5 separate regions of the Homo sapiens genome follow, and regions 1, 2, 3 and 4 are each linked to region 5. Evidence: fine-mapped expression QTL. A gene starts in region 5. Each other region holds a variant in brackets. All regions are shown on one strand. Distances are from middle to middle.

What was found.
Region 1: its variant is fine-mapped to the expression of SOAT2 in transverse colon (GTEx, PIP 0.94).
Region 2: its variant is fine-mapped to the expression of SOAT2 in whole blood (TOPMed, PIP above 0.99).
Region 3: its variant is fine-mapped to the expression of SOAT2 in whole blood (INTERVAL, PIP 0.92).
Region 4: its variant is fine-mapped to the expression of SOAT2 in lymphoblastoid cells (TwinsUK, PIP 0.94).

The regions. Positions count from the first base shown.
Region 1 is chr12:52,975,572-52,981,867 of GRCh38, reverse strand. No RefSeq gene overlaps it. Among named protein-coding and RNA genes, the nearest start is that of EIF4B, 28 kb to the left of the region's middle. The variant T/C (reference allele first, on the strand shown) is at 3,560.
Region 2 is chr12:53,384,240-53,390,535 of GRCh38, reverse strand. The region is part of intron 3 of SP1 (Sp1 transcription factor); the gene reads right to left. Among named protein-coding and RNA genes, the nearest start is that of SP1, 7.2 kb to the right of the region's middle. The variant C/T (reference allele first, on the strand shown) is at 3,687.
Region 3 is chr12:53,614,815-53,621,110 of GRCh38, reverse strand. The region is part of intron 1 of ATF7-NPFF (ATF7-NPFF readthrough); the gene reads left to right. The region is part of intron 1 of ATF7 (activating transcription factor 7); the gene reads left to right. Among named protein-coding and RNA genes, the nearest start is that of ATF7, 8.4 kb to the left of the region's middle. The variant T/A (reference allele first, on the strand shown) is at 3,475.
Region 4 is chr12:52,817,885-52,824,180 of GRCh38, reverse strand. It overlaps KRT79 (keratin 79), which reads left to right. Exons shown (of 9, transcript NM_175834.3): 6 at 169-294; 7 at 945-1,165; 8 at 1,802-1,836; 9 at 2,104-2,773. The coding sequence ends at 2,309. Among named protein-coding and RNA genes, the nearest start is that of KRT4, 6.9 kb to the right of the region's middle. RefSeq lists an enhancer at 5,461-5,962. The variant C/T (reference allele first, on the strand shown) is at 3,766.
Region 5 is chr12:53,100,792-53,106,849 of GRCh38, reverse strand. SOAT2 (sterol O-acyltransferase 2) reads right to left here and starts at 3,364. Exons shown (of 15, transcript NM_003578.4): 1 at 3,191-3,364; 2 at 2,644-2,699; 3 at 1,607-1,743; 4 at 1,230-1,289; 5 at 836-943. The coding sequence starts at 3,272. IGFBP6 (insulin like growth factor binding protein 6) reads right to left here. Exons shown (of 4, transcript NM_002178.3): 2 at 5,993-6,058; 3 at 5,690-5,809; 4 at 4,510-4,805. The coding sequence ends at 4,683. LOC124902936 (a long non-coding RNA gene) reads left to right here. Exons shown (of 3, transcript XR_007063315.1): 3 at 1-218. RefSeq lists an enhancer at 3,254-3,782.

The DNA.
Region 1 (6,296 bases), 130 kb after region 5:
TCCCAGCACTTTGGGAGGCCGAGGCGGGCGGATCACGAGGTCAGGAGATTGAGACCATCCTGGCTAACACGGTGAAACCCTATCTCTGTCTAAAAATACAAAAAATTAGCTGGGCGTGGTGGCGGGTGCCTGTAGTCCCAGCTACTCGGGAGGCTGAGGCAGGAGAATGGCGTGAACCTGGAAGGCAGAGCTTGCAGTGGGCCGAGATCGTGCCACTGCACTCCAACCTGGGCTACAGAGCAAGATTCCGTCTCAAAAAAAAAAATAAAAAAAAAAATAAAGACATAGGTCGGGCATAGTGGCCCACACCTGTAATCCCAGCACTTTGGGAGGCTGAGGCGGGTGGATCACAAGGTCAGGAGTTTGAGACCAGTCTCAAAAAAAAAAAAAAAAGACATAAACACCAGATCAAAGACTGTGTAAATAGGACTGAGCCAATCTGGAGAAGCATTGTGCAGGAGGCAGCATGAAGGAGGATGAGAGGTGTGTCAGGGCAAGGGCAAATAGGGAAGGACCAGGAAACCCAGGGGGACACATGCCTGACATTCACAGGGCCAGTTCCTCGACTCCTGCACCATGATCACTGCCATTCTGTCTGTGCCGCTAGCATGGCCCTCCAGAATGAACTGCAAGCTTGCTTGAGGCTCTGGAGAGCTCTTACGTCCACTGACGTTGTTTAAGCTCCAAGAGGCTCTGATTCCATGAACTCTGCCAATGAGAAGGTTGAAAAGAAATTGGAAGTCAATGTGGATGGAGCAGCCGCCTATTAGCAAATTTGGCCAAATGGTGGTGCTATAAGCCAGAAAATCAAAGCCATTCTAGTAGCCAGGATGACTGGAACAATGGTCTCTGCACCTAGAAGGCCACCAGGGGGCAGAGGGAGGCAAGACTGCTTTTCTCAGGGACAGCTGGAGTCACCAAGTCAAAAAGGCCATCAGTGCCGGACGTGGTGGCTCACATGTGTAATCTCAGCACTTTGGGAGGCCGAGGCTTGAGGTCAAGAGTTCAAGACCAGCCTGGCCAACTTGGTGAAAGCCTGCCTCTACTAAAAATACAAGAAATTAGTCGGGCATGGTGGTGCGTACCTCGGGAGGCTGAGGCAGGAGAATAGCTTCAATCCAGGAGGTGGAGGTTGCGGTGAGCTGAGATCATGCCATTGCACTCCAGCTTGGGTGACAGATCGAGACTCCATCTCAAAAAAAAAAAAAATGCCATCAGAGTCATTTAATAAAACAAATGGCTATATTGATGCAGTGCCAGAAATAAAACAGAATAACTCAAACAGGTGCAGATCTTGCTATGAAATGCTTAAAGGGATAGGAGTCATTACAAAATGCTTAAAGGGATAGTTCAAGGGAGCTCTGCAGCCTCATCCCTTAACCTGCCCCCCTCACCATACAACTTGTTGCTATAAGTGTCACCCTGTCGCCATGGCTTTTCCTCCCTTCCTCTGTTCCCATACCTTCCCCATACTCATCAAGCTCCTTCTGTATACCAGAGCATTTAGCCAGAGCCTCGGAAGGTGAGGGAGAGATCGCTGATGAGGAGGTGGGAGGGAGCTAAGGGAGGAGTGTGTGTGTGGAGTGAATGGTGTGGCTGGAGGCTGGTCAGCAGGGGAGACTGCAAAAAGAGGAGCTGGAACACAGAGTCAGGGCACTGGCCATGGAGTCTGGATGCTTCCTGGGTCACGGAAGGGTTTTAAGTAGGTGAGGGATATTATGAGATCTAGTTTTATCTATTTATTATTTATTTATATATTTTTTAGAGGTGGTCTTGCTCTGTTGCCCAGGCTGGTCTCAAACTTCTGGGCTCAAGAGATTCTCCCACCTCAGTCTCCCAAGTAGCTGGGACCACTGGGCCTGGCACACATTTATTTTTATTTTTATTTATTTATTTTTTTGAGATGGAGTCTTGCTCTGTCACCCAGGCTGGAGAGTAGTGGCACCATCTTGGTTCACTGCACCCTCTGCCTCTTGGGTTCAAGTGATTCTCCTGCCTCAGCCTCCTGAGTAGCTGGGACTATGGGCACCTGCCACCATGCCCGGCTAATTTTTTTTTTTTTTTTGGTAGAGATGGGGTTTTGCCACATTGGCCAGGCTGGTTTTGAACTCCTGACCTCAGGTGATCCGCCCACTTTGGCTGGGATTACAGGTGTGAGCCACCAAGCCCGGCTGAGATTTATTTTTAAAGAAGACCATGTTGGCTGGTGTGTGGAGGAAGGCTGAGTGGTTACTGGTGGCCATGAGAAGACTTTCTGTTAGGAAGATGTTGCAGTGATAGTACAGAGGACAGATGCCTACAGCCTGGATGTGGGGTGTGGATGGGGAGAAAGGAATAGATTTGGACTTACTGTGGAAGTAGGGTTATTAATTTATTAGATCCATAGGGTAGACCAAGAGAGAAGGAGGTGTCAAATATGATTCCCAGGTTTCTGGCACAAGCAATTAGATGGATGGTGTGTCATTTACTAAGATGAACAAGAATTATGAAGCTGGTGGGAGCTAAGATCAATAATCCAGTTTTGAACAGGTTAAATTTGAGATGCCTAAGAGTCATCTAAAAAGAGGCATTAAGTAGAATATTCCATAGGCTGCTCTGGAGCTCACAAGAAAGGTCTGGTTGGACATCACAATCTGGAAGTCTTTGGTCTATAGAAGATGCAATTAAAACCAGGGCAAGGTATGAGATGACTCAAGAAAATAGTCCCTATTAATAAGAGAATAGGGGCCAGGACCCAGCCCTGAGGAACATCAACTTTATATCAGGTCAATTTATAGATCAGAAACATCAAGTTACAGACCATGTCAAGGAGGGTGAGTGGGGAAAAGGGACCGAGAAACTATAACTAGAGAAAAGCCTGGCACGAGGTGTCTGGGAGACTAGGAAGGAGAGTGTTTCAAGAAGGAGGGAGAGGCTGGGTGCTGTGGCTCATGCCTGTAATCCCAGCACTTTGGGAGGCCGAGGCAGGTGGATCACCTGAGGTCAGGAGTTCGAGACCAGCCTGGCTAACATGGTGAAACCCTGTCTCTACTAAAAATACAAAAAATTAGCCAGGTGTGGTGGCACACGCCTATAATCCCAGCTACTTGGAAGGCTGAGGCAAGAGAATCGCTTGAACCTGGGAGATGGAGGTTGCAGTGAGCCAAGATCATGCCACTGGACTCCAGCTTGGGCAACAAGAGTGAAACTCCATCTCAAAAAAAAAAAAAAAAAAAAAAGAAGGAGGGAGCATGCAGCTGCTGGAAGCTAAGTGGTCAAGGAACAAAAGGAATGTCAAGTGTCCATCGATTTCAACAACATGGAGGTCTCTGGGAACCTTGGCTAGTGCAGCTTCTGAGGAGCCATACGAGCTGAGCCAGCCTGGAGGGGCTGAAGAGTGAACTGGGTGAGGAAGGGGAAAGCCTGTGTGTAGACCTCTTTTGAGAATAATGTAAGGCCAGATGCAGTGACTCAAGCCTGTAACCCCAGCACTTTGGGAAGCCGAGGCAAGTGGATCACCTGAGGTCAGGAGTTTGAGACCAGCCTGACCAACATGATAAAACCCCATCTCCACTAAAAA[T/C]ACAAAATTAGCCAGGTGTGGTGGCGCATGCCTATAATCCCAGCTACTTGGGAGGCAGAGGCAGGAGAATCACTTGAACCCTGGAAGTGGAGGTTGCAGTGAGCCGAGATCGCGCCACTGCACTCCAGCCTGGGCAACAAGAGCAAAACTCTGTCTCAAACAACAACAACAACAACAACAACAACAACAACAAAACAACAACAAAACGAGAGAGAATGATGTAAGATGCTTAGCTATGAGAAGGAACAGAGAGCTGGCCAGGCGCAGTGGCTCACGCCTGTAATCCCAGCACTTTGGAAGGCTGAGGCGGGTGGATCACCTGAGGTCAGGAGTTCGAGACCAGCCTGGCCAATGTGGTGAAACACCATCTCTAGTAAAAATACAAAAATTAGCTGGGTGTGGTGGTGGGCACCTGTAATCCCAGCTACTCGTGAGGCTGAGGTAGGAGAATCACTTGAACCTGGGAGGCAGAGGCTGCAGTGAGCTGAGATCACACCATTGCACTCCTGCCTGGGTGACAGAGTGAGATTCCGTCTCAAAAAAAAAAAAAAAAAAAAAAGAGAGAAGGAACAGAGAGCTGCAAGGGAAGGTGGTCCAGGGAGCTTGTTTTCAGGTGGGCAACCCTGGAATTGTTGAGGGAGAGAAGAGAGAAGAGAGGGGGAGAAATCTCATGTGGGGGGGAGGGGAAAGGGTCAGCGGGTGGTATGAAGAGGGACTGGGTTCCAGACCTCTGCCCATGCTTTTTCCTCTACCTGTGATGCCCTTTCTGACCTCACTGCCTGCTCACCCTACAAGACAAGACTTTGTCTCTACCCACTCACAGCATGTTTAATAGCGGATCCTGGCTCTTACCATATGCTACTGAAGACAGAGACTATGACAGAAGTATAAGTCCCCCAGCACTGTGTCTGACACACATTTGGAGGACAGCCCGGGGCAGGGTGGGAGGTGAACGGTGAAGTGTCAGCACCCTGCCTGGACATTATGGTGGTGGAGTGAGGGCGATGTTTGAGGGGGTGAATGGCAGACTGACTGAGAGAATCTCAGCTGTTCCTCTCAGTGGCTCTTTCTAATACTTTTTAATTTTGTTTGTTTGTTTGTTTGTTTGTTTCCTGCAGGAGTGGAGCCCTGACAGTTCCCAGACCCTCTCACATACTCTCTCAAGGAATCCAGCTTAATGGATCAGCCCACTGTAGACAAAAAAACAGAAAACAGAAAATGGATCCAGAACCCAGACTCCCATCAGTCCCACCACATAGCCAGCAGGAGGTCAGGGGTGAGGGGGGCAGGCTGGGGTTTAGTGGGGGCCTGCATTCCTTTCTCTCTGCACGGCGGCAGGGCTTCTCAAGTATTCTCTAATTAAGATGAGAAGCAGAAGCAGGGGCTCTCTGGAATGTAAACAGCAGATAAGATCAGGCACCCTCCTCCCTGGGAAACTTCCATTTTCCTTCTTTTAGGATGGACACTGCATTCTTTCCCCGCTGCAGTCTTTGGCTCCCCAGTTCTTTCCATCCCCCCTCCCTCAGCCCTTGTCTCTGTCTTTGAGTCTCTGTCTGCATCCCTTATGGCTCCCTCATCTGGTACAGGGCTTGTGCATTGGAACCCAGAGGGGAACCTCTCATTTCATCAGTATATGGACATCTCCCAGGTTCAGGCTGGGAGTTTTTGACCCTTGCTATGGGCTTCTCTCTCCTGTCTCTTCTAGGAGGACAGAGCAGGCTCCATCATTGTACCAAGGCAATGTTCATTCAAATAAACAATGCCAGCCAACATGTGGGGCCAGGCACGCCAAGTACTAAAGGGACCATCTTGATGAGTGGTGCTCATAAGAGGTGTCAGAGGAGGAGACAGCATTGGCAGGCAGCCTGAGGGTGGCAGCCGAGTTACGGGGAAGGCTTCAGGGAGGAGGCGTGATTTGCACTGAGCCTTGAGGAAAACGTGGGATGCAGGACATGGAAGGGTGGGGAGAACTCCTGGCAGGAGGCAGTTTGGGAAACGTTGTTTGAGATTAGTTCAGGTGGAACAGTAGGTTTAGTGAAGGGCAGACGGGGCACTTGAGTAGGGAGGTGGATATGGGAGATGGAATGCAGGGGGAAGATCAGATTTTATGCTTTCAACAATGAGAGGCCATCACAGGTGTTTCAGGGGGGAGTCGTGATAGGGCAACAATGTGGATTTAAAGATAATTCTGGAAGCAAATTAGAGAGGTGCGGGGTGGAGAGGTGAAGGTCTCATGCTCTCTTATCCCCTGACTCCTCACCTTCAGCTGCTGCCACTGTCTCAAGGGGCCCAGAAGTACCTTGATGAAGATGCAGGATGGGTGGGATTGGGGAGCCATGAGACCCTCCCTCTCCTGGGATTCTTGACGCCCTGTGTCTATGCTTGGCCAGGGCTCTGTCCACAGTGGGGCTTGGACCTGAGTCCCTCCCTACCTCCCAGGTAGCACAGGACAGGATGAACCTTTCTGGGCCAGAGGGCCTGGCGCAGTCCAGGGAAGGATTCCGTACACTGCATGCCATGTGGCTTCTCCATGCTGGCACCTCAGCCCAACCCGGGACAGTGGGTGTGGGGAATGGAGAAGCGGGTGGGCCATAATTTGAGAGCAAGGGGGCTGGTCTGAAGCTTATGGGCCCATGGGGACATCCCAGAGGTTCAGTCCACCCACAGAGGTTCCCCAGAGTGTCTCCTTTCTCTCCTGTGACCCCCAGTCCCAGGCCTCACTGCCTTGGCCCCTCTC
Region 2 (6,296 bases), 280 kb before region 5:
GATTTTTTGTATTTTAGTAGAGACGGGGTTTCACCATGTTGTCCAGGCTGGTCACGAACTCCTGAGCTCAGGCAGTCCACCCGCCTTGGCCTCCCAAAGTGCTGGGATTACAGGCATGAGCCACTGCACCCAGCCCCCTCAAAGCACTTAGATTTTAAATGAGATCTTTCCTACTTAAACTGAAATAACCATTTAAAAAGCACCAAACACCCTAAGAAACAAGTATATCTTTCTGTGCTGATATCTCTAGAAAATAAATTTTTTAAATTAAAAAGAGAAACAAGTATAATACTAGGGAAAGACAAAAGACGCAGAAACATTCAACATTATATTTGATAAAATATAATCTTAAAATAGAAAATTCTTTCATATGACCTTTTGCACAAAAATGATAACTGGTAAGACATTTAAATCATCTAAACCTACTTTTCATTAATGTCCAAATGTACTGCTCTAAAACACAACTTTTTAACAAATTAGCTCTCAGCAATCTGACTCCAAGTTTAGTGACACCCTTGGCAAACCAACCCTGGTATCACATTCAACTTAACTTCTAAGAGAAGACATTTTCCTGACCCCAATAAAACCCAGCAGATGTGAAATTGTTATTTTTAGTACCTGAAATTTGGTTTGTGAATGAATTATACCCATCAAGGAAATATGTTCTATTCTCCTGCCAAAGCCCAGCCCTGCACTCTTTATTAGACAGAACTCACAAGAAGTCATCCAAACTTAAATCTTTAAAAGCCAACTCCCCGTCAACCTGCGGCAAGAGTTTCAGGATTCAGCAGCGGCTAAGAAAAACATCTGAGGCTTTAAATGAAAAGTAAAATAAAATAAAATAAAGATCTGGGAAAATATGACTACAAAATGAAAGGAAAAGCTGTTGATAAAAGAGGGAGGGGTGTCAATTTAAAAAAAAAGAAACATCACGCCTGTAATCCCAGCATTTTGGGAGGCCAGGAGATCGAGACCATCCTGGCCAACATGGTGAAACCCAGTCTCTACTAAAAATGCAAAAATTAGCGGCTGGGCACAGTGGCTCATGCCTATAATCCCAGCACTTTGGGAGGCCGAGGCAGGCAGATCACCTGAGGTCAGGAGTTCAAGACCAGCCTGGCCAACATGGTGAAACTCAATCTCGATTAAAAATACAAAAATTAGCCAGGCGTGGTGGTGGGCATTACTCGGGAGGCTGAGGCAGGAGAATTGCTTGAACCCAGGAGGCAAAGGTTGCAGTGAGCCGAGACCACACCATTGGACTCCACCCTGGGCAACAAGAATGAAACTCCGTCTCCCAAAAAAAAAAAAAAAAAAAAGATCATTTTAAAAAATAATGAATGTAAACAGACTAAGTGAACACCATGGAAGCTGCAATCTTCCACAATCATGTAATATATCTCATTTTGTACAGTGATATATACATGTATCATACAACATTTCACATCCAATGTTCTTTCTACATCGTACCAAGAAGTTGAACATACTGCAAAAAGGTTAAATTTTACAGTAAAATAACTATCAGAGAAGGGGGTAAAATTAGATACTTTTTTTTTTTGACAGGGACTCACCCTACTGCCCAGGCTGGAGTGCTGTGGCGTGATCATGGCTCACTGCGTCCTCAACCTCCCGGGCTCAGGCAATCCTCCCACCTCAGCCTCCCAAGTAGCTGGGACTATAGGCGTGTGCTACCATGCTCAGGTAATTTTCATATTTTTTGTAGAGATGGGGGATCCCTATGTTGCCCAGGCTGGTCTTGAACTCCTGAGCTCAAGAGATCTGCCTGCCTTGGCCTCCCAAAGTGCTGGGATTACAGGCATGAGCCACTACGCCTGGCCAAAACAAGATACTTTTGCCAGCAGGAAGGCAAAAGCTGAAAAAGGAGTAAGCCTCTAGGAAGTGATTTTATTATCTTTCTTTAAGGATGAAGTCATATCAATTAAAGGGGAAATACTACACAATTATTACTAGCCAGAAAGGAGAAAACTTGGATCTTCAAAAACCCCTATTAATGAAGCAAACAATCTCAACTCTTACAAAACAGCCTGTCAATGCCTCATTATCTCCTTAGTGAATGTCAAGCTCCTCTTACCTTACAGAAACACACACGCATTTTCTTCAGCTCAAACACCATCAGTAACAACTAGGTAGCCCTAGTCTATGACATATTAAATGGCAGACTTCCCCAGAGCATGATTTAGCAATGAGAATGCCTCATAACTGTTCTCTAAACCCTAAGTTATAAGCCTTTTAGAAATTGCAAGGATCCAAATTATTAACAGGAATAATCCCACAGTTTGCTCTGAAGAAGAGCAAAACCGGGCACTTCAATCTAAGAGCAAATAGAAAATAAACATGATGGTGTAGGTTGCCCAGAAGTGTCTAATTTTCTACGTTGTAGAGGTCAGTTTTTATAAAACTTTTCCCATTTCTATTCCCATAAATGTTTAGTTTATAAAACATTTTTATAAATGTTTTATAAACATCTGTCAGTTTTAGAGCATTAAATCTTAAATCAAAAACACCTTTTCGAATACATTTTTTTTTTTTGAGACGGAGTCTCGCTCTGTCACCCAGGCTGGAGTGCAGTGGCACAATCTCAGCTCACTGCACGCTCTGCCTCCCAGGTTCACATCATTCTCCTGCCTCAGCCTCCCTAGTAGCTGAGATTACAGGCACCCACCACCACGCCCAGCTAATTTTTTTGTATTTTTAGTAGAGATGCGGTTTCACCATGTTAGCCAGGATGGTCTTGATCTCCTGACCTCATGATCCGCCTGTCTCAGTCTCCCAAAGTGCTGGGATTACAGGCGTGAGCCACCAGGCTGGCTCGAATACATTTTTAACAATCTAAAGAATTGTTCAAGTCCCTAGTTAAAACAGGTTGCACCCTAGACTAGTAAAACTAGCCTCAGCTCTGGCTGTTGTCTCATTAAGTGATTCTCTGTACCTCAATTTCCTCATCTAGAAAATAAGGCAGTTGTACTAAATAACTTCAGTCCCTTCCAGCTCTAACTTTCAATTCTAAGATTTCAATTAACTAAGAAAATTACTGTCTTGTTAAAGCTCAACATGTAGTATTTCTAAACACACCACAGGAATGTAAGAAATCAGGGAACTTAAGCAGACTTTCCCCCTAGATTTACCAAAACTGCAGGAGGCAGGAAATATGGTTGCCTATTTGCTACCCTCACTTATGTAAGAATCAGTTAAATGGAATGAGAACTTGGTAACAAAAGTAAACAATTTATAAACCCACATATATATGCCAAAAGAACTAGAAGTGGCCAGGCGCAGTGGCTCACGCCTGTAATCCCAGCACTTTGGGAGGCCAAGGCGGGCGGATCACGAGGTCAGGAGTTCGAGACCAGCCTGACCAGCACAGTGAAATCCAATCGCTACTAAAAAAATACAAAAAATTAATGGGCATGGTGGGACGTGCCTGTAATCCCAGCTACTCGGGAGGCTGAGGCAGAAGAATTGCTTGAACCCGGAAGGCAGAGGTTGCAGTGAGCCAAGATCGCACCACTGCACTCCAGCCTGGGAGACAAGCTAGAGTCAGTCCCAAAAAAGAAAACGAAAAAAAAAAAAAAAACAAACCTAGAAGTTGGGTGATATTATTTGGTGATATTAAACTATTTTCCGTATTTGTATAATTGTGCCAGCATATAAAGATGTATGTGTAT[C/T]CTTTTATTGTGCTTTATTAAAGATTAGCTCCATACAATGGAATTTAAAATGATAAAGTCAGGCCGGGCATAGTGGCTCACACCTGTAATCCCAGCAGTTTGGGAGGCCAAGGCAGGCAGATCACTTGAGGTCAGGAGTTCGAGACCAGCCTGGTCAACACAGTGAAACCCCGTCTCCATTAAACAAACAATTAGGCGGGCATGGTGGCACACGCCTGTAATCCCAGCTACCTGGGAGGCTGAGGCAGGAGAATCACTGGAACTCAGGAAGGGGAGGTTGCAGTGAGCGGAGATTGCACCACTCCACTCACTACAGCCTGGGCAACAGAGCAAGACTCAGTCTCAAAAATGAAAAAAAAAAAAAAAAAAAGATACAGTCTACATAGACTTACATCTGTTTACTGTTTTAAATTTCAAATTAATAGTGAAACATTTAGTTCAAAATGAAAGACCCTGAACATTATGGTCAACAGATTCAATATTCTTCCCAGACTGTTTTTCCCTTCAATGCTCTCCTCATTCCTAACTCTTCTCAATCCTACATCCCCCACTCCATTCCAGACCCCAACTTACCCCACTCCCTTTCCTTCTCCCTTCCTAACCACACACAGTACTTTCAAAGCAGTCTAGGAAGTTAGACTGCTACCTAGAAGTATCAGAATCACCTAGGATGCTCATATGTTAGTGTGAAGGGAAGCTATGGGATTTTGTTTTTCAGATAACTAGGAGTTAAAAAAAAATTCAATCCTGATTAACCAGCACACTCAGAGTGTGGGATATTCTGGTTAATACTAACCAGGGAACTTACTTCGTTGAAAAGCAACCCGTTAGATCATTTTCCCTTCAATTAGGAGTTACAGTTCACAAGAAATATCTGATGATTTAATCTGTGTTCTACAAACAGGTAAAATTCATAATCAATTTTTTTTTTTTTTTTGAGACGGAGTCTCACTCTGTCACCCAGGCTGGAGTGCAGTGGCACGATCTTGGCTCGCTCCAAGCTCTGCCTCCCAGGTTCAAGCGATTCTCCTGCCTCAGCCTCCCAAGTAGCTGGGACTACAGGCTTGTACCACCACGCCCGGCTAATTTTTGTATTTTTAGTAGAGACGGGGTTTCACCATATTGGTCAGGCTGGTCTTGAACTCCTGACCTCATGATCTGTTCACCTCGGCCTCCCAAAGTGCTGGGATTATAGGCGTGAGCCACCGCGCCCAGCCCATAATCAAATTTATTTTTATTTATTTTTTTTTTTTTTGAGACGGAGTCTCGCTCTGTCACCCAGGCTGGAGTGCAGTGGCGCGATCTCGGCTCATTGCAACCTCCGCCTCCCTGGTTCAAGTGATTCTCCTGCCTCAGGCTCCTGAGTCGCTGGGACTACAGGTGCGCGCCACCATGCCCAGCTAATTTTTTGTATTTTTAGTAGAGACAGGGTTTCACAGTGTTAGCCAGGATGGTCTCGATCTCTTGACCTTGTGATCCACCCGCCTCGGCCTCCCAAAGTGCTGGAATTACAGGCGTGAGCCACCGCGCCCGGCCGCCTTTTATTTTTATTTTTTGAGACAGGGTCTTGCTCTGTCAACCAGGCTGGAGTGCAGTGATGTGATCTCGGCTCACTGCAGCCTCTGCCTCCCAGGTTCAAGCAATTCTTGGCCTCAGCCTCCTGAGTAGCTGGGACTACAGGCGCGCATCACCATGCCTGGCTAATTTTTTTATTTTTAGTAGAGAAGGGGTTTCGCCATGCTGGCCACGCTGGTCTTGAACTCCTGACCTCAGGTGACCCACCCACCTCAGCCTCCCAAAGTGCTGGGATTACAGGCGTGAGCCACCGTGCCCAGCCACCCGACTAATTTTTGTATTTTTTTTTTTTTTCAGAGTCTCACTCTGTTGCCCAGGCTGGAGTGCAGTGGTGCAATCTTGGCTCACTGCAACCTCTGCCTCCCAGATTCAAGCAATTCTCATGCCTTAGCCTCCCGAGTAGCTGGGCCCATAGGCATGTACCACCACACCCGGCCAATTTTTGTATTTTTGTCGAAGACAGGGTTTCGCCATGTTGCCCCAGCCGGTCTTGAACTCCTGAACTCAACCCATCCACCTGCCTCGTCTTCTCAGTGCCTGCATTACAGGCGTGAGCCACCACACCCGGCCCATAATCAATTTTTATCCTATGGAGGAGTTGGCCTACAGGCCAAAGAAGGCCTTAGAGCTAAGAATGGTTTTACATTTTTAAAGGGGTGTGGAAAAAAAACATACAAAACAGAAAATGTGGCTGGGTGCAGTGGCTCACACCTATAATCCCAGCACTTTGGGAGGCCGAGGCAGGTGGATTCACATGAGGTCAGGAGTTCGAGACCAGCCTGGCCAACATAGCAAAACCTTGTCTCTACTAAAAATACAAAGATTAGCTGGGCGTGGTGGTGCTCGCCTGCAATCCCAGCTACTCAAGAAGCCCAGGCAAGAGAATCGCTTGAACCCGGGAGGCAGAGGTTGCAGTGAGCCGAGATCACGCCACTGCACTCCAGCCTGGGTAACAGAGTAAGACTCCATCTCAAAAAAAAAAGAAAAAAGAAAAAAAAGAAAAGAAAGCCGGGCGCGGTGGCTCACGCCTGTAAT
Region 3 (6,296 bases), 510 kb before region 5:
AGTGACCCTGTCAAAAAAGAAAATGAAGTTGCATATTAGTTGCTGTTTGGGTATCTTATGCTACTGTTTATAGATCACTGCATAACTTGCCAGTGGTTCATAAGTGATCTGTTTAATAATTCATTTAGAATCTTTCTGAGAAATAATATTTCACTAGTCTACGATTTCTGTACTCGACCTCCCTTGCCCCACATTTTAAAAAATTATAATTTTCCCATTTCCAAGACTTCTAGTCCTGTTTTTTTTTCATTTTCAAATAATTATAGAAAATTAACCATATTTCTTCATAGTTGCAGGGATTTTTTGTTGTTATTTTGTTACTGTCTTTTGGTTGTGGTTTTTTTCTTTTTCTTTTTTTTTTTGAGACGAAGTCTCGCTGTGTTCCCCAGGCTAGAGTGCAGTGGCAGGCTTACTGCAACCTCTGCCGCCCAGGTTCAAGCAATTCTCAGGCCTTAGCTTCCCAAGTAGCTGGGATTACAGGCATGTGCCACCACACCTGGCTAATTTTTGTATTTTTTTTTTTTTTTTTTTTTTTGAGACGGAGTCTCGCTCTGTCGCCCAGGCTGGAGTGCAGTGGCGGGATCTCGGCTCACTGCAAGCTCCGCCTCCCGGGTTCACGCCATTCTCCTGCCTCAGCCTCCCAAGTAGCTGGGACTACAGGCGCCCGCCACTACGCCCGGCTAATTTTTTGTATTTTTAGTAGAGACGGGGTTTCACCGTTTTAGCCAGGATGGTCTCGATCTCCTGACCTCGTGATCCGCCCGCCTCGGCCTCCCAAAGTGCTGGGATTACAGGCGTGAGCCACCGCGCCCGGCCTAATTTTTGTATTTTTTTAGTAGATATGGGTTTTCATCATGTTGGCCAGGCTGGTCTTGAACTCCTGACCTCAAGTGATCCACCTACCTCGGCCTCCCAAAGTGCTAGGATTACAGGCGTGAGCCACCGTGCTCGGCCATGGTTTTTTTTTGAGACAGGGTCTTACTCTGTTGCCCAGACTGGAGTACAGTGGCACAATCATGGCTCATACTGCAGCTTCAGTCTCCCAGGCTCAAGCCATCCTCCTACCTCAGCCTCCTGAGTAGCTGAGACTAAAGGCTCATGCCACCATGCCTGGCTAATTTTGTTTATTTTTTGTAGAGGTCTCATCATGTTTCCCAGGCTGGTCTCGAACTGCTGGGCTCAAACAGTCCTCCTGCCTTAGCCTCCCAAAGTGCTGAGATTACACGCATGAGCTACTGTGCCTGGCCAGATTTTTTGACATTAGATGAAATTCTGTTTCGGAAACTTTTTTTTTTTTCTGAGGCAGGGTCTCCCTCTGTCTCCCAGGCTGGAGTGCAATGGCGCCATCTTGGCTCACTGCAGTCTCTGCCTCCTGGGCTCAAGTGATTATCCTGCCTCCGCCTCCTGAGTAGCTAGGACTACAGATGTGCGCCACCGTGCCCATCTAATTTTTGTATTTTTTGTAGAGACAGAGTTTCCCATGTTGCCTAGGCTGGTCTTGAATTCCTAAGTTCAGGTGATCTGCCTGCTTTGGCCTCCCAAAGTGCTGGAATTACAGGCTGGGCCCCCATGCCCAGCTTGTTTTGGAAACTCTTCTTTTTTTTTTCTTTTTTTTTTTTTTTTTGACACGGAGTCTCGCTCTGTCTCCCAGGATGCAGTGCAGTGGTGTAATCTCAGCTCACTGCAACTTCTGCCTCCTGGGTTCAAGGAGTTCTCCCCCTCAGCCTCCCAAGTAGCTGGGACTGCAGGCACATGCCACCACGCCTGGCTAATTTTTGTATTTTTAGTAGAGACGTGGTTTCACCATGTTGCAGGCTGGTCTCAAACTCCTGGCCTCAGTTGATGCGCCCACCTGGGCCTCCCAAAGTGCTGGGCTTACAGTGTGAGCCACCTGCCCTTGGAAACTCTTTTAGGAAAAAAACTTTATTCCCTGGACATTTCAACTTAGAAATGAAAGAATTAAACTACTCTCTGAAAACAATTTTATGTAGTTTCCCTGTAATGTTGACATCTCCAATTTAGACCTAACTTTTCATTTTCTTCTTTTTTTTTTTTTTTGGAGACAGAGTCTTGCTATGTCAGCCAGGCTGGAGTGCAGTGGTGCAGTCTTGGCTCACTGCAACCTCTGCCTCCCAGGTTCAAGCAATTCTCATGCCTCAGCCTCCCAAGTAGCTGGGACTACAGGTGCCCACCACTGCGCCCGGCTAACTTTTTGTGTTTTAGTAGAGATGGGGTTTCACCATGTTGCTCAGGGTGGTCTCGAACGCCTGAGCTCAGGCAATCCACCTACCTCAGCGTCCCAAAGTGCTGGGATTACAGGCAAGAACCATCGCGTCCGACCCTAACTTTTCATTTTCTGTTTGGAATAAAAACCTATACCAACTATAAACACACACACACACACACAATTGCCATTTATAATTGTAGTTTATTGGCAAGGATGGTCTAAGTTTGCCAGGTCTAAGTGTTGTAGGTGAAGGGTGCTACAAATGAGATACAACTTCAGAAGACATCTCTAGGGACTAAAGACTTTACATTGGCAGGCAGCAACTTTTCCTGCTTGTTAATTTTAGACCTGACAGTTGAATTTATGTTTGAGCAATTTTAGCTGATAAATGCATTTTTTAAGTACCTTCCTCTTTTGGCATTTTAATTTTTACTTTCGTTTTTAAAAAATTGCAAATCGTGAATGAATGTGCATATTAAATTAGCATGCTACTAGGCAGGGAAACAATGCATTTTCTTTTGATACCTTCTCATCCATCTGATAGCATTAGTTATGAATTCTCCTGGAAAGCAGAAGGATGGACTCGATAACCCCTCAAGGTTCTTTTCAGGCCAGAACTTTCATAAATAGAAGTTAAGATCAAGGAACTTACTCTTGAAGAATCAGGAAGAAAAATAGACTGTAAAGAAAATAAAATTGAAATGTTTCTGTCGACCCAGTGGGAATGGATAAACACAAGTAAGGAACATAAATGACGAGAAATAATAACTCCTTTGAGCTAAAAACAAAACAAAAATCAACAACAACAAATATTTTGCATTGGAGTCATTTTATATCTTAAAAATATTTTATCATGACATTTTCTCTTCGACATTTCCCTTGTGGACACTTTGTGTTGAAAGAATGTTGGGTTTTGTTCCTGTTAAATCATAGTATTTTGTTTCCTTCCTTTCTCTTGTTTGTCCTTTTGTTTAAAAACTTTTTTTTTTTTTTTGGTCTTCTGTATAATGGACTGACTGCCTGTTTACAATGAGGCAAGATTCAATTCAATTTTGAAAGTATTTGCTATATCACTTCCTCGGAAATGAAGGATGAGTGTTACAATTCAGGAAAGGTTGTATGAAAAGATAAACTTGTATAAAAAGATAAGCTTTTAAAATTTTGTAGGCAAACATTTAACGAAGGTTCCCAACCAAAGCAAAGGTGAGTTAGTATAGTAGTCTTTTTTTTATTATTATTTAAAAAAA[T/A]TTTTTTTGAGACATAGTCTTGCTCTGTCACCCAGGCTGGAGTGCAGTGGCACAATCTTGGCTCACTGCAGCCTCCGGCTTCTGATTACAAGCAATTCTTCTGCCTCAGCCTCCCGAGTAGCTGGGATTACAGTTGCCTGCCACTATGCTTGGCTAATTTTTGTATTTTTAGTAGAGACGGGGTTTCAACCATGTTGGCCAGGCTGCTCTCGCACCCGTGACCTCAAATGATCCACCCACCTTGACCTCCCCAAGTGCTGGGATTACAGGTGTGAGCCACTGTGCCTGGCCTAGTATAGTAGTTTTAAGAAGGACATAATACATAAGCATTGGTTGGGCACAGTAGTTCACACCTATAATCCTAGCACTTTGGGAGGCTTGGGCCCAGGAGTTCGAGACCAGCCTGGGCAACATGACAAAACCCTGTCTCTATAAAAAATACAAAAATTAGCTGAGTGTGGTGACATGCGTTTGTAGCGCCAGCTACTTGGGAGGCTGAAGCGGGAGGATTGCTTCAGCTCAGGAAGCAGAGTTTGCAGCCAGCCCAGGTTGCAGCACTGCACTCCAGCCTGGGCAACAAAGTGATACCCTGTCTCAAAGAAAGAAATAATACATAAGTTTACAGTAAAACTCATTACAAACCCTTGACTTCAGGTTGTTAGCTTTTTCTCACCTTTTTTTTTTTTTTTTTGGAGACAGAGTCGTTCTCTGTTGCCTAGGCTGGAGTACAGTGGCATGGTCTCGGCTCACTGCAATCTCCGCCTCCCAGGTTCAAGCAGTTCTCCTGCCTCAGCCTCCTGAGTAGCTGGGATTACAGGCACACGCTGCTACACCTGGCTAATTTTTTAGGTATCTTAGTAGAGATGGGGTTTCACTGTGTTGCCCAGGCTGGTCTCGAACTCCTGAGCTCAGGCAATCCACCCGCCTCAGCCTTCCAAAGTGCTGGGATTACAGGAATGAGCCACCGCACCCGGCCACGCCTTTTCTCATCTTTTGGCAATTTTAATCCTCAGTGTTCCCATACATTTGAAACCAGAATGTGCATAAAGTTTCTTTTTTTCTTTTCAATATTGTATCTCTTCTTAATAAATATCATGAAAGTCTATGAAAGTGTAGGTTGGGTGAGTTGGCCCACACATGTAATCCCAACACTTTGGGAGGCTGAGGTGGGCAGATTGCTTGAGCTTGGAGTTCGAGACCAGCCTGAGCAACACAGGGAGACCCCATCTCTACAAAAAATTTTAAAATTAGCTGGGCTTGGTGGTGCACGCCTTTAGTCCTAGCTACTTGGGAGGCCAACGCGGGAGGATTACTTGAGCCTGGGAGGCGGGGGTTTCAGTGAGCTGACATCACGCCACTGCACTCTAGCCTGGGTAACAGAGTGAGACCCTGGCTCAAAAAAACCCAAAAGTAAACTAACGGGAGCCAAGATTTAGCTTAGAAAGTCATTTCATGAGCTTGTGGCATGGACATCTGTGGTCACATGTTTTGCCACAGCCCCACCTTCTCACAAAACCCAGCTTGCTTCCTTTGAGTGGAATTCCTTACTGTTTTCTCCTGATCTGATAGATTGCTTCTTTTTGCTGTAGTAGACGAGGAATGTTTGTGTGCTAAACCGGTCAATTTTTGGGGAGGGCTTAAAATTACCATGCAGTAAGAAAAAAACATTTTGTCAGATTGAAAAATAGGGCACAACCATTCTTTTTGAAATAGGAATATGCCTGACTCATTATTATTATCATTATTTTTAGAGATGGGTCTGGGTTTGTCACCCAGGCTGGAATGCAGTGGCGTGATCATAACTCACTGGCAGCCTTGAACTCCTGAGCTCAAGTGATCCTCCAGTCCTCCTGCCTCAGCCTCCCAAGTAGCTGGGACTACAGACGCACACCCCCTCACTTCCGATCCAGCCAATCTTTAATTATTTTGCAGAGAAAGGATTTTGCTCTCTTGCCCAGGGATCTAAAACTCCTGGGCTCAAGGGATCCTTCTGCCTCAGCTTCCCAAAATGTTGGGATTACTGGTGTGAGCCATCGCATCCAGCCCCTAACTATATTATAAAATCAGGATGATTTGTTGAATGTGACGTAATTACTGTAAATGAATCATGTTGGTACCAAGTTTCTTGCCAGTAATATTTAAGTTTTATCAAACTTGAATAACACCTTGTTGGTTTTATTTAACATCATATTTCTGGTACCAACATGACTCCTGTAGCAGCATTTTCTTTTTTATTTTTCTTTTCTTTTTTTTGAGACAGAGTCTCGCTCTGTCACCCAGGCTGGAGTGCAGTGGCACGAGCTCGGCTCACTGCAAGCTTCGCCTCCCGGGTTCATGCCATTCTTCTGCCTCAGCCTCCCGAGTAGCTGGGACTACAGGCGCCCGCCACCATGCCTGGCCAATTTTTTTGTATTTTTAGTAGAGACGGGGTTTCACCATATTAGCCAGGATGGTCTCAATCTCCTGACCTTGTGATCCGCCCGCCTCGGTCTTCCAAAGTGTTGAGATTACAGGCGTGAGCCACCGCACCCAGCTCTTTTTTTTTTTCTTTTCTTTTGAGATGGCGTCTTGCCGTGTTGCCCAGGCTAGAGTGCAGTGGCATGATTTCTGCTTACCACAACCTCTGCCTCCTGGGTTCAAGTGATTCTCCTGCCTCAGCTTCCTGAGTAGCTGAGATTATAGGCATCTGCCACCATGCCTGGCTAATTTTGTATTTTTAGTAGAGACAGGGTTTCACCATGCTGGCCAAGCTGGTCTTGAACTCCGGACCTCAGGCGATCCGCCTGCCTTGGCCTCCCAAAGTGCTGGGATTACAGGCATGA
Region 4 (6,296 bases), 280 kb after region 5:
CTCAGGTGTGAGGCCTGGGGTCGGATCAGATCTCCCATCGTGAGAGGCTTGGGCCTCTGGGACCCTTGGAGTCCGGGGGGCCAGATATACTCAACTTGCATGGGGCCTCCAGCTGTGAGGGTGGGCTGGGGCCATTTGAAAGCGCACTGCCACTTCTTTGGTCCCCAGTATGAGGAGCTGCAGGTGACTGCTGGGAAGCATGGGGACAACCTGCGGGACACCAAGAACGAGATTGCTGAGCTCACCCGCACTATCCAGAGGCTGCAGGGGGAGGCTGATGCAGCCAAGAAGCAGGTGGGACTCTACTGGGGGCTTGGGGGTCTGGCCTAGGTGTTGGCAGGGCCTTCTCATTGTCACCCCGAGGGGCTAGGCCTGCTCTTCTCCTGACGGACACAATAGAATGCTAGGCCATTGATCACAGGCTCCTTTTACATGGGGGGAAACTGAGGCACAGAGCAGGAAGGAGCTTGTCCAACGTCACATGGTATATGAGTGGTAGAGCAGGTGGGACAACCTTCTCCAAGGAAACTGATCCATCCCATCTCCAGGAAGTCAGAACAGGAGGTAGAGGGTTCAAGGGGCCAGGTCACAGATGCTGATGCCGACTCCACCTTTAGAACGGCTAAAAAGTGTGGGTTCTTTCACAGATTAGAATGAAGCACCTGGTTACTAATAAGGCTGTGTTATTTATTTCATCTCTTCTGAGGCATTGGGCTGATCTGCAGCAGGAGGGGTTGAGGTTAGACTTCAGTAAGGACTTTCCCAGTGGCCTTACTTGATCCTGCTTGTGTAATAGCATCTCTTCAGATGAATATTTCTCTTCTCTCTTTCCCAGCTGGTTGGGGGCAGGGATGTGGGAATGATGATGTCTCCATGGCTTGAGGGCAGAGAGATGAATGGGATGACCCCGGAGGGTGCTTCCAACACCTTTCTCCCCTGGGCAGTGTCAGCAGCTGCAGACGGCCATTGCGGAAGCGGAGCAGCGTGGGGAGCTGGCACTCAAGGATGCTCAGAAGAAGCTTGGGGATCTGGATGTGGCCCTGCACCAGGCCAAGGAGGACCTGACACGGCTGCTGCGTGACTACCAGGAGCTGATGAATGTCAAGCTGGCCCTGGACGTGGAGATTGCCACCTACCGCAAGCTTCTGGAGAGCGAGGAGAGCAGGTGGTGGCCCCTCCTGCCCGACCCAGAAAGCTGGGTCGGGCCTGCCCTGGGGGAGAGCCCAGGGAGTCTGCTCCGGGGTCAAGAGAGGGAGAGAGGAACCAGGGAGCAAGATCCTGACTCACGCGGGGGGAAAATCTGCTTGTGCCCACTGCCTCCATCACTCCTCTCCTTGGTTGGCACAACTCTTGTTAATCTTTACTGTGGCTGACAGCCCGGTAGGAATGGAACTTCCTCTTCCACCAGCAGATTTCACCAGCAGTGGAAGCTTTGGAAAAAAAAATCCACCATCTCTGTCCTTAGGAAAAGCATGAAATAGAAAGTGGGCAGAAACTAGGCAGCTCTGTCTGGTCGTGGGCTTGTTTCCATTGGGGCAGGGATGCTGTCCGTAGCCCACATGGGCAGAGAGGAAAGAAAAGGGGAGGATGGGAGTTGGCACAGCCTACTGGTGGCTCTGCCCTTTCTGCAGCACTGGCTTTTGGACCTGGGCACAGCCCTATACACATACTTCTCATGTTTCCTGGTCTTGTCATCAGGATTCACTGAGTGGATCCAATGTAAAGGCAGAGGGAAGGAGAGGGTTTTCATGTGGGCACCAGGGATAACTGACTGCTCTCCTGGCCTTTCTGTGTCCCCTAGGATGTCTGGAGAATGTCCCAGTGCAGTCAGCATTTGTGAGTATTTACTCCCCACTTCCTGCTCCACCCCTGGCCAGGCCCCAGAACTCTGCTCAGTTTATGCAACCTGTACCTGTCCTAAAGCATGCTCTCCTCCATTCGAGCCCCTGGAGACAGGTTCAGAGGGTCCTAGTTCTGGGCTTCTCTATCCATTTCCCATAGCTCTGCTGCTTGATTTTGTTCTGATTCCCCACTGATTTCTGGGTCTCCCCCAGCCCTCTCTGGCATGGCCGCCCTGACTAATCCAGACCCTTTGCTTTGCAGCTGTGACTGGCAACTCCACCACTGTGTGCGGAGGTGGCGCAGCCAGCTTTGGAGGTGGCATCTCCCTGGGTGGGAGTGGGGGGGCCACCAAGGGTGGATTCAGCACAAATGTGGGCTATAGCACCGTCAAGGGAGGGCCAGTCTCTGCGGGCACCTCCATCCTGCGGAAGACCACTACGGTCAAGACGTCCAGCCAGAGGTATTAGCTGCTGAGCCCTGCAAGGGCCCCTGCAATCCTGTCCCTGCCCTCCTCACCCCACCTCTGCTGTCCTTTCCAGTCACTTCTCAGGAGCAGGAACAGCCAGGGGACCTCAGACCCAGGGTATTTTCATACCAGACTATTTGCATCTTGGGAAGCGCTCAAATCTACTCAGGTTTTCTCCTTGGTCCTGCAGTAGGATGGGAGGGAAGGTTAAAGTTGCCAGCTTGAGTGATGTGCTTGGGTGACTTGGGGGTGACCTTTTGACCACCGAGAGGAGGCTGAATTTCTCAAGCCATTAGGAGAGAGAGAAATTGGGAGTGGTCCCCAAAGACCCTTCAACCTCCCCAGTCCCCCACCAGACCCACCCTCTCCCTGAATCTACCCACATCCCCCTTCCCTGTCTGTGTCTCAATAAATGGTGCAACTGCAGCTAGCTGTCTGTGGCTGCAGTCTGTCCTGCCTGGGGAACTGAAATTGTGTCCATTGATTAACATCCTGATGCCTGACACAGCAATAATCACACACTCACCACATCCCAATCGCCATGCTTACTTAGGTACATTAGTTTGATACCATCGCCACTCCAGGGCTGTACATGGCTCACAAGAGGAGACCAAGGCTCAGAGGGAATATGTAAGCTGCTCAAGGCCAGACCTGGCTAAGTGGCTGCCTATTAACCAGCCACCCCTGGTGCCTGTTCAGCCTCCCACTAACTCTGTAGGGGCAGACAGCATGCTTTGTTCAGTGGAGAGGTCTTAGGCTTCAGAACTAGGCAACTTGGGTTTAAATCCAAGTTCTGCCACTTACTAGCTGTATGACCTCGGTCAAGTTACCTAACCTCTCTGAGCCTTAGTTTCCTCCTTTGTAAAAGTGGGTTGTGATAAGAACATGTGTAAAGCATCTGGCTTATAGAGGCCCTTTCAGGAATCAGGTTTCTTTGCTTTCCCACTCCCTGACTTCTGGATTCCCAGCTTATCCTCTTGGCCTCAGTGATGTCTCTCTCAGCCCCCACATCCAGTCGGCAAGAAAAATCCACACTTAATTGGGTTTTGTGGTTTACACATACATTACTTTGCCTGTGACCATCACCACAGCCCTAGGTTCAGTAGTGGGCATGTGGTGTTCCAGTTTACAGGTGAGGCGATTCACGCTCACAGAAGTGACCTCTCATGCTGTAGTCATCCAGCTGGCTGGAGGTGGGTCAGTAGTGTCCAGGGCTGCAATTTCAAGCCCTCTGTCCTGTCACCCCAGAAGCTACCTCCGTCCTACTCCTGCCTCCATCACTCGCCAAATCTTACTGCTCCTCCCTCCATGCGTCTCTTGGTATCACCTTCTTTCCTCTTCATCTCCACAGTTCTCTACTTTGAGTCTGGACCCCACTCCTCAAGCTGTACCCAAGTGATTCCCCAATTGGCTGGCCTCTCAACCCTGCACCTCTCAGGCCCTCCCCACCCTGCTAC[C/T]AAACCAGTTGGCCCGACCCGAGGCTGTCACCACTCCGCTCCCTTCCTTGGCAACCTTAGGGCTCCTGGCAGTTGCTGGGATGCATCCCACACTCTTCCGGCCTGATCACTCTGTCCTCCTCAGAGGAGCCCCGAAGAGCCCTGAGAAAGCTTCCTCCAGGGCTGTGGAAGGCCAGCAGAGGGATTTTCAGCCAAACCCTAACCTCCAGCTTAGGAACACAAAGGCCTAGCGGTTTAGGGTCAGCTCTGCCTCACCAGCTTGGGTGGTCTCTAGCTTCCCTTCTCAGACAGATGGAGTATAGTCCACCCCATGTACAACACTTTGAGGAATACTTGCTAATGCTCACTGAGTGCCAACTGTGTGCCAGAACTGCTGTCAAGCCTTTAACTGATTCTCTTCACAACAGCCTATAATATAAATACTATTATCATTCTAATTTTGCCTATAAGGAAAATAAGGCACAGAGTGGTTAAGTAACTTGCCTAAGGTCACACAGCTAGGAAGTAGCAGAGCTAGGTGTGGAATCCAAGCAATCTGGTTCCATAGCCCAAGCTCTTAAGCACCAGGTTATTTTGCTTATATAGAAAAAGGAATGGAGACCTGGGGATGCTGGAGCTAGAAGGGGCATTGGATGTAATCGACTCCAAACTTTTTATTTCATAGATAAGAAAACAGGTTGAGGAAGGGGAAGAATGTATCCAAAGCCACGGTAACTTAGTGGCAGTGTTAAAAAAAAAATCAGTTTTAGTGAGATCATAGGCCAGGTGTTGTGGCTCCTGCCTGTAATTCCAGCACTTTGGGAGGCTGAGGCAGGTGGATCACTTGAGCCCAGGAGTTCAAGACAAGCCTGGCAACATGGTGAGACTCTGCCTCTACAAAAAAATACAAAAATTAGCTGGGTTTGATAATGCATACCTGTAGTCCCAGCTACTTGGGAGGCTGAGGTGGGAGGATCACTTGAGGCTGTTGAGGCTGCGGTGAGCTGTGATTGCACCATTGCACTCCAGCCTGGGTGACAGAGGGAGACCCTGTCTCAAAAAAATTATATTTAGGGCTCAAAAACTGAACAATAGAAACTTTTGATTGTCATGGAAAAAAGCCTCAGAGATTATACTGCAGCCCAGGGGGGCCCACCAACAATAATGCGCTGCTTAGACATACTTGTCGAAGGAGGGGAATGGCCCAGACCCAGGGGTTTCCAAACTGAGGACCCTAAGGGCTGCTTTCAGGGGTGCAGGGGGAGGTCAGCAGGTGAGAAGGATCATGGTCCCTCCTCTGCACCAACTGGATCATCTCTCCTTATCTGTTTTACTCATGAGGCTGTGCACGTGATTTTGTTTATGAGGGTGCTTTTGCTGCCAGAACATGCTGGGAAGCCCCTGCCTGTATATGCCTGGGGTAGGAGGCCAGCAGGGGCAGCTCTCCGGCCCGGGGAAAGAGGAGCCCCTGGGTACAGACCCCCATACCTGGCTCTCAGGAGTGCCCGTCCTCTCATTGCCCTCACTGGCCTCTCCCTAAAACGCTGATGGCCCTTTTCTGCAGAATCTCTGATCCCCGTGTTGTCTCTGGTTCCCCAAGAATGACTCAGGCCCGGTGGGGCAGTTGAGGTTGGGTGACCGAATGGAGTGAGGGTGCCCGCCTGGCCAGGGAGGGCAGGAGCACTTTCCCACACCACACAGTGGGTTTGGAGATGAGAGTGACAGAAGCCCTCAGGATCCCTTAATCCCAGGGCTGAATGTAAGGGCTTGCCTCCCTTACCCAGAAAGCCCTGAGCAAACACTCCCTCCGCCTGGCTCCACACCCCTGTCGGCTGCTCATCCCTCTGTGAAAAGATTGGGAACAGCTGCCAAACAAGGAAGGGTCACCGAGGGCAGTAGCAGAATCTGCGTGTGGAGGTCTGGGGAGGGGCAGGGGACAAGCTTCCAGCTGTGGCTGCTGGGTAGTGGCGCCTTGTTCAGCCACCTGCCTCTGGCCCACATATGAAGGCAATGTCTTTCCCCGTTTTCAGGGAAAGAAACTCATCTCTCTTTCTCTCTCACTCTAGGGTGTAAAGGCGCTCTTGCATAGGAAGTTCTTCCTTAGGTCTACCTTCGGTTTCTCAGGCTCAGTTTGAAGATTTTGTGAGCTTCTTGCAATTCTGATTTAATAATAAGGACACAGAATGTGGCTCTAGACTAGAACTTTCTTCTTGTTTGGATTGGGTTTATGGTAGGGTTTGTCATGAAATTAATTTGGATTTAGTTAATTGGAGGATACAAAACTGGCCCCTCAGGACAGTGTCATACCTTATTGGGTACTTGTAAGGACAGGGCCACATCAACCAAGCAACTGACCATGTGCTGAGGGTAAGGACAAAAAGGAGCGGAGCTGCATCTGCAGAGCTTGCAGCCTGCTGGCCAGACCCCATGGCTGTCTTGGTGGACCATGAGGTACAGGGCTGTATAAGTTGCTGTGTATTTTTTTCCCTGCATATTCTGTGTGGGCCAGTCACTCATATAAAACATTATACCTACCGTTTTATACATTGTAA
Region 5 (6,058 bases):
ACTGAGGCTCCAGAAGAAGGTCTTCAAGACTCAGACCTTAGTTATAGATTAAAAGAAGTTAATCACTTATGTCTTTAGATGAATGCACACCTACACATAGATGTAGAGCTTAGAAGGTATATATGCTCTGGAAATTGTAATTTTTAGTTGGCCTGGTGATAATTTCCAGGCCTTCTCCCTGTAACTGGTTACAGAAATAAAAACTCACTTCCTCCCCAGTTCATCTGCATCTCGTTATTGGGCCATGAGAAATAGCAGCCCCAACCCTCAGTTTGGTCTGGGAATAGTGGGAGGTATGAAAATACAGACCCCCAGGGGTATACAGCTCTCTGAGGCTCATCCTCACAGTTGGATGGGGTGCTCTGTGGGGGAAATGACCCACCCAGGCACTTGGTTACATGTCTGTCTTCCCCACAAGACTGGGAGTGCCTCACAGACAGGAGTGGGGTCTGCCCCCCTCATTTCTCTGGCCACTAGGACTGGTACTCGGGAGGTGCTCAATGGAGGTTACTTGAATAGAACTGACTTGGAAAGGAGTGTGTATGGGTGTGCATGTGTGCACACACACACACATCTGCCTCAGGGCAAGGTGTCATTGAGAAGCATTTGAGAGTGGCCGGCCCTGGGAGGACAGACAAAGGGCCAACCAAGGCTGGGGAAGGAAGGGATCCTAGAGAGTGTTTCAGGTGGAAAGGTTGTTGGGAGCAATGTTGGTACATGTCCAATAACCAAAGGGGGAACCTGTGTCCTCTTGCCCCAAGGGCAGGTGGGGCACTGAGGACCCAGAGGGTCTGATCAGATAGGTGTGCCTGTCCCAGGTGGGAAGGGGACCTACCTGCCCTCATCAATGAAGTCGATGGCCAGGGTGCTGATGATGAAGACACACAGGCCAGCGATGAACATGTGGTAGATGGTGCGGAAATGCTGCACCTCCATCAGCTCACTAGAGGGACAGGGGCCCGAAAGTCAGTGTGGGAGGGTCCTCAGGGTTGTGTGAACTAGCTCAGACACTGTACACATGAGGCATGGGGCCTAGCGATCCAGAACTTCCAGCTAAAGGCCTTTCTTCCACAACCATGCCTAGGGCAAATAGGGGACCTGCACCTTAGAAACCCTTTCCAAGTCCTCTCCACAAACCACCTAGAGGCTGGGGATGAGAAATGAGGTACCTTGACCCCTAGCCAAAGCCCTTTCTTTTCCTCCCATTACTTGTCATCACCCCGACTTACTCAAGCAGGGACTTGCGGATGATGAAAACTTTCTGTTTCCCCAGGGATGGCTCCTGGGTCCTGAATTGAGATGTTTGTTCAGGGTCAGGAAAAAGTAAATGGGCAGAGGGCAGGGCCATGCAGAAGGTCAATACTTGGGAGCCAAGGGGAGTGGTAGGGAAAGGTCAGGGCTAGGGCCAGAGGGCAGGACCGGGTAGAAGGTCAGGGCCAGGGCAGAGCGAGGCCCAGTAGATGGAGGTCAGTGTTAGGAAGACAAGGGGGGAAGAGGGAAGGCTGGAGTCACGGTCCTGATAAAGCTGGCAAGGGCACATAACGTGATGTTTCTAGCTCATGATCCTTGCTACAGAGGAGCCCGCGCAGCCATTCCCCAGACTCACCTGCTCAAGGAACCTGGGGGAGGTGGGGGCAGAGGTTTGTCTTGTGATGGGTAGGATTGTATAGCCTCCCGCATGGCCCGATCCAGCAGCTCCCTCAGTTGTCCCTGCGCTTGCTCCAGCAATTGTGCCTTCACAGCCTACGGGACAAAGCCAGGGTAGAGCCCACTGTCCCTCCAGTCAGCCATCCTTTCATTCACCAGACATTCACTGAATTTCTGTCTATGCCAGGCACAGTGCTTTTTTTAAAAAAAAAAACAACCTGGGGGGTCAGCAGGGATGGGGGTTCAGTGGTGGCAGGCCTGCGGGGGGAAGGGCAGGCATTGGTGGGGTGGTGATGGGTCTGCTGGTGGGGTAGGACCCCGCAGTGCTAAGTGCTGTGGTAAAAAGATGAACAAGCCATGATCCCTGCCCAGAGTTGATCTCCTTCTGGCTTCCTGGGGCAGCAGCGAGGATCAGGGAGTGACAGCAGGAGCAAGGCTTCCCCTCCCTGGGTCTGAATTCCAGCCTGGTCACCTCCGATTGTCACTCCTCACCCCTGGCCTCCAGCCGCACTAGCAGGAAGACTCTATCTACTGGCTGACTTTTGGTGACCTTTGGGACCTGTGCTTCAAACCCCTCCATCTCCATCCTTAATTCGAATCCGATCTTTGCACTCAGGAACAAGTCATCAGGCTGGGCACCGTGGCTCACACCTGTAATCCCAGCACTTTGGGAGGCCGAGGCGGGTAGATCACTTGAGGTCAGGAGTTCAAGACCAGCCTGGCCAATATGGTGAAACCCCGTCTCTACTAAAAATATAAAAAAAAAATTAGCCACACCTGGTGGCACTCATCTGTAGTTCAGCTACTCGCTTGAACCTGGGAGGCAGAGGTTGCAGTGAGCCGAGATTGTGCCAATGCACTCCAGCCTGAGCAACAGAGCGAGACTTTGTTTCAAAAAAAAAAAAAAAAAAAAGTCATCTTTATCACCAAGCCTCACTCCTGCTTCCTGCTACCAAGGATCTGTCCACTTGACCTCTGACCTCTGACATCCCTCACCTCCATGTGTCGGGTCCATTGTACCAAGTCCGGGGCTCTGTGCGTCTCAGTGTTTCCTGTGAGGAGGGATCAAAGGCACAGTCAACAGGAGGAATTGGGGTTCTGCAGACCCAGAGGCATCCTGTGGTCAGGAAATGCTTTGTGTGCTCAGCAGCTGCCCTCACCCCAACCAGCCAATATCTAGTATCATGGTTGGGGCTACTAGAAGGGGAAGTTGCTGTTGCCAGTGGTGAGGAGGCCATAGGCAAGCAGGGGGCCTGGTGACATTACTGGGAACAGGGCACTCAGGGAATGGGAAGCTACTCCATTCACTATCTGGGGCTAAACAGTCAGAAGGATAAGGCCAGGCCACAGCTCTGACATAGCTCTTTTCTGTTCCATCTTCCAGCTGGGTGGCTCTGGGCTGAGGCCAGGGTCTACCTTCCTTGGCCTCTCTGGACAGCAGGAAGGATTGGCATCAGGCAGTTGGAGCCTTCTCTCCATAGCGCATCTCTCCCCGCCTCCCCCCCACTTGCCTGTGCCTTCTGCACCCCCGAGGGCGGCTCACCATCTCCACAGGGTTGGCGCTCCCGCTCCCCTCCCAGCCCTTCTGTCCTCTGCAGACGCAGACGGGCCCCGCCTGGCTCCATGGTGCGGTCTCCAGCGGGCAGCAGGCAGCCCTTGCCCGTGTTGCCTCCTTCCTTCGCAGTGTGGCCTGCCCTGTAGAGCTCTTGTCCCACTCAGCTCAGGTGACAGCTCCAAAGACTAAAGTCCTTTCAGGAGGAGGGGGCCTCTGGGAGTGCGATAGGTTATCTGATCTGGAGGCAGAGCTTCTCAGATTCAGACCTCACTCTGCTGTCTGTCGCAGGGATCGCCACATCCCCCTAACACCCCAACCACCATCCAGATGCCCAGCTCCAAGGGTGCTATCCACCCCGCCACACACACACAGGAATAGTGGCTGGGTACATCTTGGGGAGGGGAACTTTGCCTCTCAGAAGCTTGTCACCTAGCATGGCTGGCCTTCCAGTCTCTCTCCCAGCAGGCTGAAGGTCAGGGAGGAGTCAGAAATGTCTTCATGTATCAGTGCGTTCAGCTCGCTTTCACCACAAGGTGTGTGATTGACACATGTGGTAATATTCTGATGGGGTTGGCACTGTGCTACTCACGGAACTGGGGCCCCTCCAGGAAAGGCTGAGTGTCAGGGCCCCTGAACTGACAGGGCCGCTTCCTGACACCTGCTTGGGTGAGCATGTAGGCAGAAAGGAGACTAAACAAACACGTATTCAGCACCTAGGGAATACCAGGTATTGTCACATATGGAAGAACCGGATGCAAACCTCCCTCTGTCATTTACCAGCTATATAATTTCAGGCAAGTGACCCCAAATTTTAAGCCAGTTTCCTCCTCTGAAAAATAGGGGTAAAAATCCCTATATCACAAGGTTATCGTAAGCTCAAAATGAGGTTGTCCAGGTAAAATCACATGGTTCAGGGCCATGGGATGAGCTCATATATTAGTAATAATTTCCTTCTTTTTTTAGTAGGAAGTAACAGAAGGGTATGTGCTTTGAGAGTTCCTCTTTGCTGGGTTCCTGCTGGGATTAACTATTAATCCTTCCCCTCCCTTTGTGTCCAAAGATCAGTGTTAGAAACAAGGTCACAACTTCAGATTAAGGCCATGATCTCAGTGTCTCCCCTTCCCACTCCCAACTCCTGGTGGGCAGCTCTGTGAGGCTTGATGGCTTGAAGCTTCTGCCTGGCTGTCACAGGAAGGACTAAAGGTATCCACAGGAAAGGAGAAATGCTGTGAGTGAGCTGTAGTGGGGTAAAGAGAGGGCCAGGGATTCCAGAATTGTGAGAGGCAGACACAGAGACACAAGCCAGCGACCCCAAGCACAGCTTTATTGACACCCCAGCCAACACCAACACTCTTTCCAACCAGCGGTGAGGGGCCCATGGGGCGGGGCCTGAAGGTGGATTGAGGGCCTCGGTTTTTTGTTGAGTGATGACAGCTCCATGTTCCTTCCAGTGGCCCTGCAGCCCCTCTATCCCCCAGCTTTAGCCGCTACTCCCAGTGGGGCAGGAGGAGCTTCCATTGCCATCTGGAGACCCTGGCAGGGACTTGCCCATCCGATCCACACACCAGCAGGGACCTCGGCGCTGCCCCTGGGAGGAGCGGCACTGGAGAGAGAGGCACACAGGTCAGGAGTGAGGCCAGAGGCTTCCAGCAGGAGAATGAGAGGGGACATCTGAGTCTGAGGATGTAAAAACACCTGAGCGTCTCCTCGGGGGTTCCCTCTCTTTTTTTTTTTTTTTTTTTTTTTTTTGAGATGGAGTCTCGCTCTGTCGCCCTGGCTGGAATGCATTGGCATGATCTCTGCTCACTGCAACCTCCACCTCCCAGGTTCAAGCAATTCTCTTGCCTCAGCCTCCTGAGTAGCTGGGATTACAGGTGCATGCCACCACATCTGGCTAATTTTTGTAATTTTTAAAACAGATGGGGTTTCACCAGGTTGTTCAGGCTGATCTTGAACTCCTGACCTCGTGATCCACCAGCCTTGGCCTCCCAAAGTGCTGGGATTACAGGCATGAGACACCGCACCCGGCCCAGTGTTCCCTCTCTTTAGTTCCCCCTCTTCAACCAATAAATTGTGTGCATTCTGCTAGCCTGGAACAGTAGTTTTCAAAGTGACGTTCCCAAATCCGGATCACGAGGGAACATGTTAGAAATGCATATTGTCAGGCCCCACCCCACACCTCCTGAATCAGGAAGGCTGCCGGTGGGGCTCAGCTATCTGTGTGGCATAAGCCCTCCGGAGGATTCTGATGCCTCAAGTTCAAGAGCCACTGAGTTAGGGCATTCCTTAAGTGGGTTTTCTCTCACAGTGTGTGGTTGATTATTCTCTAAGTTTGTTTAATAAATTATATTCTCTATGTTCTCCTAAAGTTGGAAGATCCTTAAAGATGGGGCAGTGTCTTATTTATGCAGCTTTGTAAGCAGCACCGCCCCCACTCCCTGGCAGGAGCCTTCTGCTGGAGCAGGAGGAGAAGAAAAATAGTCTCACCTGCCGCTTCCGGTAGAAGCCTCGATGGTCACAATTGGGCACGTAGAGTGTTTGAGCCCCTCGGTAGACCTCAGTCTGGAGTTGCTGCAGCACTGAGTCCAGATGTCTACGGCATGGGCCCTGGGGAAGGGAGAGTAGGCAGCTTAGAACCGCTCCAGCCCAGCTCCCCATTCCAACCTTCTGGCCCACCAGGCAAGCACCCAGGACAGACAATGGAGACGTCTCCAAGCCCAAGGGAGCAGTCTCAGATGGAAGTCTCCAGGGCTTCCCACCCCTCCTGCTCCCTACCAGCTCCAAACGCACCATCTCAGTGTCTTGGACACCCGCAGAATTGGGCTGGGAGGGCGTGGTAGAGGTGCCTGGATTCCT